Linked DNA regions of Homo sapiens. The protein of the gene in region 1 interacts with the protein of each later gene in a biochemical or structural test. Each region holds a gene or a part of one and is shown on either strand. Other genes may lie near its edges.

The links. The genes of interacting proteins can lie anywhere in the genome.
Region 2: the proteins of AMFR (region 1) and DERL2 form a complex in vitro, tested with the Homo sapiens proteins (one study listed by BioGRID).

What each region holds. Positions count from the first base shown.
Region 1 is NC_000016.10:56,401,546-56,405,045, forward strand, and holds part of AMFR (E3 ubiquitin-protein ligase AMFR), read right to left. Parts: intron 3,497-3,500; coding exon 3,364-3,496; intron 1,574-3,363; coding exon 1,440-1,573; intron 299-1,439; coding exon 188-298; intron 1-187. UniProt on the Homo sapiens protein: E3 ubiquitin-protein ligase that mediates the polyubiquitination of lysine and cysteine residues on target proteins, such as CD3D, CYP3A4, CFTR, INSIG1, SOAT2/ACAT2 and APOB for proteasomal degradation.
Region 2 is NC_000017.11:5,475,699-5,479,678, reverse strand, and holds part of DERL2 (derlin-2), read left to right. Parts: intron 1-1,679; coding exon of another isoform or gene 1,680-1,722; exon of another isoform or gene 1,723-1,830; intron 1,831-3,980.

The DNA.
Region 1 (3,500 bases):
GGGAAGAGGCTAAGGAACAAAGAAGGATACCCAAGAGCTTCCCAGAACACTCAGTGCCAGCAGCAAGGCCAGGCTGAGGTAATGTCCCCACTCCTCCACTAGGATGAGTCTCGAGCCTGGGTACACAAAGCACACACACGCCCTGGACAGAACACCTGTCCCACATGGCCCTTCACAAAGCTCCTACTTGTGGAAAAGATGTCCACAGGGCAGTTTCCGCGCAGCCTGCATGGAGTCCCAACAGATGGCACAGTCGTCATTGTTGACAGCCAGCTCCTCTGGAGTTGCAACTGCAAACCTGTGGAAACAAAACAAGCCCAGCAGGAACCTCAGTCAGTTCCACACGCACACTAAACACCACTTGATAGACTGCGCCTGTATCACAACACAGTTACAGAGAAAGCATGTTCAGCAAAACATTCTTGATAATCAAAAATATAATTTACCTTCAAAGCCCTTTCAAAAGTGAGTAACTTATGCACAGGAACTTTGTCTAAATAATGGTTGCTAGGCCGAGCGCGGTGGCTTATACCTGTAATCCCAGCACTTTCGGAGGCCGAGGTAGGGGGATCATGAGGTCAGGAGTTCAAGACCAGCCTAACCAACATGGTGAAACCCCGTCTCTACTAAAAATGCAAAAATTAGCCGGGCGTGGTGACAGGCGCCTGCAATCCCAGCTACTCAGGAGGCTGAGGCAGGAGACTTACTTCAACCTGGGAGGCGGAGGTTGCAGTGAGCTGAGATTGTGCCACTGCACTCCAGCCTGGGTGAGTGAGACTCCATCTCCAAAATAATAATAATAATAATAATAATGGCTGCTGTTAGTGAAGACCTCGGAGACCATATCCGGACAAATCAGAGGAGTAAGGCCCCCAGAGATCCAATCTGTGTCCCTGGCCACAAAGAAGAGATCCAAGCTGTCCCCCTGGGTGCAAAGAGGATACCCATTAATCTTGCACCTCCAGGCGTGGCTTAGCCCCAGCTTGGCAAAAAAGTGCCTCCTTCAATGAGGTTAAGTATGTGTGTGTAAACATGCATGTGCAAAGAACTGAGACCCACTTTCAGGAAATGAACAGGGTAGAAGCCCAATGAAGTGTCTATTTGATAATAATGACAATAAAATCATGACAAATAAGAGCCTAATACTGAGCACTATCTGCCCAGTACCATTCTAAGTACATGAATTATCTCACCAAATTCTCCCAATAGTTCAGGCAGAAGGTTCTGTTTTCATCCCTAATTTAGAGGTGAAGTAAATTGCCCCAAATCACACAGCACCTAAGTGGGGATTCACACCCGGGCAGTCTGACTCCAGAGCCTTTCCTCTCCACCACTCTATTAGCAGTTTACAAACATACATTCTGACATACTCTGGGATCTGCTGTTATTAAAAAACTAAAATGAGTAAACTTAGGCAACATCAACTTGTGCTTCCTTACCTGGCCTCCATGTTTCCAACCACACGTAGATAGTTCTTGTGCCGACGAATTCGACGTTGCACCTCATGAAACAGGTAACGCAGCTGCATAAAGATGACCAGGCTGGCCATGGATAACCAGATGTTGCCAAATAACTTAGAGAGAAAGAGAATAAAACACACGGTAAAAGCGAACGTGAACTTGCTAGTGATGAAGGCGCAGTATGCAGCGGAAGCTCTTCACTGTTGGTGATGGTGAACTGCAATGTCTTTCAGAAAGGAAATACACAGATTTATCTCATTACTCTAAACAATGCACATCCTCGTCAGCCTAGGTGCTCCAATGCCAGTCATCTTTCCTGAGAAACTCATCAGAAATGGAAAAGCTTTATGCAAAAAGATGTCTATCCATGCAATTATAAAACAGAAAATATGAAAATGAACAAAATGCCCAGAAGAACAGTTAGGTTGTAAACTCATGTAATGTAAAATTATATAGTCATTAATTTCACTTATTATACTATATAACTACATATTACTATTATATTTGTATATATAACAGTTCTGAAGGTCAATTATGGGAAGATAGTACTAGATAAATGAAAAAAGCAAGATATAACTATCTTTATCAAACTAATACATGATAAAAAATATGTAAAATGTGAAATAGCAAACAACCAAATATAATCTAAATAACCCATTGTGGGATGCGGTTTATTAAATCATGGTACAGCTATCTGATGATATTTTTATCCTGAAAGTATTAAAATGGCTTAGAAGAACTGATGTTAGCACAGGAAAATGTTCATAATACATTAGTTTTTAAAGAACAGAACTATATGTCTAAAATATGATCTCAATTTATGAATGTATGTACTCAAATACATAAAAAGAATCAGTTAAATACAAAATACATAAAAATACAAAATACATAAATACAAAAAATACATAAAAAGAAGCAGTTAAATACAAAAAATACAAGCATGAGGAAAAAAAATTTAAAAAAAGAAGATAAAAAATCTTAACAGTTATCTTTGGCCATTTGTTTGTCCCCTTTTTGAGGGGGGAGGGAGGCTTTTTTTTTTTTTTTGGGACGGAGTGTCACCCTGTCGCCCAGGATAGAGTACAGTGGCGCGATCTCAGCTCACTGCAACCTCCATTTCCCAGGTTCAAGCAATTCTCTGCCTCAGCCTCCCCAGTAGCTGGGATTACAGGCATGAGCCACCGCGTCCAGCCGAGGCTCTTTTTTAAAAAAAAGAATTACATACTTTCTTTAAAAAGTATGTTTTCAAAGTTTCTTTCAAAAAGTAGACTTAGAAATGTGCCACGTCTAGCCCAATAATTTTAAAATGCTACTTGCTAGGCTTATAATTTAAATAAATTGCCCACCAACTATTTTAATTCTCACCATTATTAGATCACTGAAGGGCCAACCAATGAAGCAGATCTACGACACCGTAACGTCTAACATACCAAAGTAAAATGTAAACAATGATGGTAGTAGGAATGTAGGAATTAAGTGTAAAGACTTTTTTTAATTACAAAGATGGAAAATGTATAAATCTGTGAAGTAGCTAACACTGCAGGAATTCCCATTACCACCTACAAAGTACCTGCTAAATATTTAAAGCCATAGAAACTATGGGGAAAGGCAGCTCCTTAATTTCATGCTAAAAGAATAATCTATTGACTTGGTCAGCAGAGTTAACTAAGTCTCCCAGGACAGCAAACACCTCCTGAGTTAGGCACCAGCCAAAGCAGTTCCATGGCACTGCCTTACACCCAGTGGCAAAAAGAGGGAGGGTTTGCAGCCACATTCATTTTTAGTCTTTAAGTAGTCCATCCACATCTTATTTCTAAAGTTTCATTTTTTAATGAAGAAACCATTACTGTTCCTGATTCTGAAAGGCTTGCCCTCTGTTAGAGCTCCTTCTGAGGAAACTTACCAACATGTGAATATGGTGCATGAGGTCCAGGGACAGGAGAGTGAGCTCCATGACAAAGTCTGTGTAATAGACATACGTCCCCTTTCCTTCCCACGTCCCTTCGTGGTTGAGGTCCCAGAGGTGAATTACGTATCTGT
Region 2 (3,980 bases), on another chromosome or scaffold:
GCCAAGCAGGTGGTTGAGATAAGCAGTGAAGCAGAGTGGAAATAGCTTTGGACTGGAAACCAGGTGTAGCTGTCCCACTGACCAGCCATAGAGCAAGTCCTTTCTTTTTTGCACTTCAGTTTCCTGAGATAGAACTTTGATTTCTTTCTTTCTTTTTTTTTTTTTTTTTTTTTTTTTTTTTTACATGGAGTCTCACTCTGTTACCTAGGCTGGAGTGCAGTAGAACTTTGATTTATGAGACCTCTTTCTACTCTGGAATTTGGTATCCTTGGGAGATGCCATATTAAAAAGGGCTCAATTGAGAAGTAAAATGTGAGTTTTTGTTATAAAATGTTTGTTGTAGAATAGTAAGCAAAAAAGAAGAAAGTGAAATTGTCCACTATCCCGACACTTGGGTATAGCAGTGGCCACCATTGTTAACTTTTCAATGTGTATTCTTCAGTCTTTGTGTACTTTTTAAAAAACGCTGAGCCAGGCAAGGCTGCATACACTATGATTGCGCCTGTGAACAGCCACTGCTCTTCTTGGGCTAGGCCTTTAACATAGCCACTGCATTCCAGCCTGGACAACATAACACATTCCTGTAATCCCAGCACTTTGAGAGGTGAAGGCAGACGGATCACTTGAACTCAGGAGTTTGACACCAGCCTGGGCAACATGGCAAAACCCCATCTCTACAAAAAATCCCAAAATCAGCTGCATATGGTGGCATGTACTTGTAATCCCAGCTACTCGAGAGGTTGAGGTGGAAGGATTGCTTGAGCCCAGAGGGTTGAGACTGCAGTGAGCCGAGATCGCACCACTGCACTTCGGGCTGGGGGACAGAGTGGCACCCTGTCTCAAAAAACAATTTTTGTAACCTTGTAAACTTAGTATGCCATAATTGTTTTTTCCACCCTGAAGTGTTATAAAATTATAACAGGTGATATTCCATGGTATGGATATGGTGTAATTATACTAATCCCTTGTTGATGGACATTGACGTTAGTGCTTGGTTTTCTCTTCTGTAATTGGAGTGGTGAATGTCCTTGTAGCTAAATCTCTGCACACATCCATGATTATTTTCAAAAGATAATTCCTAGAAGTAGAATTCCTATTTTGTTGCCAAACGCCTTCCAGAATGGATGTTCAGGTTTACATTTCAACTAGCATTTATAACTGTTCATTTCCCCACATCCTAATCAAACAAGGAAGGCATTTTATTTACCCTTTCCTAGTTGAATAGTTGTAGGATGATGTCTCATTGTTTATGATTTTTAAAAAATGTTTTGAAACAATTTCAGTCCTACAAGAAATTACATATGCAGTACAGGTCTCACTCCATTGCCCAGGCTGGAGTGCAGTGGTATGATCATAGCACACTGTTAACTCAAGCCCCTGGGCTCAAGTGATCCTCCCACCTCAGCCTCCTGAGTAGCTGGGACTACAGGTGCACACCACCAAGCTCTGCTTATTTTCTTTCTTAAATGTTTTTTTTTGTGGAGACAAGGTCTCTCTATGTTGCCCAGGCTAGTCTCGAACTCCAGTCCTCAGGTGATCCTCTTGTCTCTTGGCCTCCCAAAGCACTGAGATTACAGGTGTGAGCCACTACACCCCACTTTTTATTTTTTTATTTTTTTGCAATTGTTTTCTGGCACAACAAGATATACCAGGCTCATCCTGTGCTCTCCTTGATCCAGTCCTAGAATCAGCTGTTTCTTCAAGGAGCCCTGGTTCCTTTAAAGTGGAGAATGGTATTTAGAAGCCAAGATCTGGGTGCTAGATGTGCTCATTGCTATTGGAGTGTTGCTATTCCCAGATCCTCTCAGTGAACAGAGCAATGGAATTATATGTATGTATGTATGATAATGTATACATGTGTATATTTTTAGATCTATGTATTTTTTAAAACATGGGTTTATACTATACTCCCATTTCTAGTACTACCTCATGGTTCATTCTAGCTTTTTTCCTATTGGTTTCCTCCAATATTTTATTATGAAAATTAACAAACTTATAGGAAATCAGAAAAAAATTGGAGTGAGCTTCATGTAGCCACCACATAGATTCTGTAATTAATAGTTCCCTATTCTTATTGCACACCTATCCCTACATCTAGCTTTCCAATCCAAAATGTATGTGCCATTATATGTATACTTAATTCCTTGTATACTTGAGTGTGCATATCAGTAACTAGAGTTTAGTATTTATGTGCAACAAAATACACAAATCTTGAGTGTGTCAACTGAGTTTTTATAAATGCACACATCTGTGTATCTATCAAGACAGAAAATTACCATCAACCAGAAAGTTCCCTGATGTCCTTCCCTGTCAATCATTGTACCTGTCCCCCAAGAAGCAATTGCTATTCTGGTTTTGTTCCTCTGTAGATTAGTTTTTCATGTTCTACAACTTCATGAGTAGAATTGTACAGTATGCATGTACTCTTTGGTATAAGGCTTCTTTCATTCAACATAATGTTTTTGAGACTCATCTGTGTTCTTGTATTTATTGGTAATTTGTTCCTTTTTATTGCTGAATATTATTTGGTTGTATGAATGTACCACTCCTTTCCATCTGCCCTTTCCATCTGTCCTAACCTGATTCTTATTATGATTAATGTTTTACCTACCTAATTACCCCTCATATGTAACCAGTCTTTCGGGATAGTCTCCACCTCTCCCATATGGATGCCTTGCTTATCTCACTCACCCTCAGATTCCCCAGACCAGGCTGCCCTCTTACAGGGATGCCTCCCCATCCTACTCGGGCTAACATCTCGTCAGGCCACCTCCATGTGTGCATGGTCTGATGGGGCTCTTGACTCCCTATACCAGGCTGTGCCCCCACCCCCATCCTGCTAATGTTTGGGCAGTAGAAGGGATCTCAGTTTTGTTTTTGTTGTCGTTGCTGTTTTTTGAAACGGATTCTTGCTCTGTCACCCAGGCTTGAGTGCAGTGGCTCAATCTCGGCTCACTGCAACCTCCGCCTCCTGGGTTCAAGCGATTCTCCTGCGTCAGCCTCCCTAGTAGCTGGGATCATAGGCATGCGCCACCACACCCGGCTAATTTTGTATTTTTAGTAGAGATAGGGTTTTGCCATGTTGGTCAGGCTGGTCTTGAACTCCTGACCTCAGGTGATCCACCCTCCTCGGCCTCCCAAAGTGCTGGGATTACAGGCATGAGCCACCACACCTGCCGGGATCTCAGTTTCTAATATACTTTCCTTTGATTATTGTGAGAGCAAACATTCTCACGTTTATTGACCACATGGATTTCCTTTTTGAATTGCATATTCAGCCCTTTGCCCATTTTTTCTGTTGGTATGTTTGTTTTTATTGTTAATTTGTAAGAATTTTAAAAACTCATTTTGAATTATACTATTTTCTGACTCCAGTATAAATCAGAAGTTTTCAGATACATTTCTAATTTTATCAACTGTGGAGGATTACAAGTAGAAATATAAGTGCAAATTGAGGATGCTGCTTTAATGGTTCCTTCTTTAGTGAGGTTTTGAATTACTACATCATAGTACTTAGGGAGTCTTTTGGACATTTACTATCCCCTCCTATGTTCTGCAGTAATTTTTCTTGGGATACCTTGTTAATTTTTTAAAAATTTTGTGGTAAAATAATACCTAACATAAAATTCACCATCTTAACTCATTTTAAATGTTCAGTGGCATTAAGTATATTCATACTGTTTTGCTGCCATCACCACCATCCATAGAACTCTCTTCATCCTACAGAACTACAACTCTGTACTCATTAAACAACTCCCCACCCCAGCCATCACCATTCTATTTTCTTTCTCTGAATTTGACTACTCTGTACCTAAGTGGAATCATACAATATTTGTCCTTTTTTGTCTGGCTTATTTCTTATTTCATTTAGCGTAAAGTCCTCAAGGTTCATCCATGTTGTACCATGTGCCTGAATTTCCTTCCTTTTTTTTGAGACAGTCTTGCTCTGTCGCCCAGGCTGGAGTGCAATGGAGCAGTCT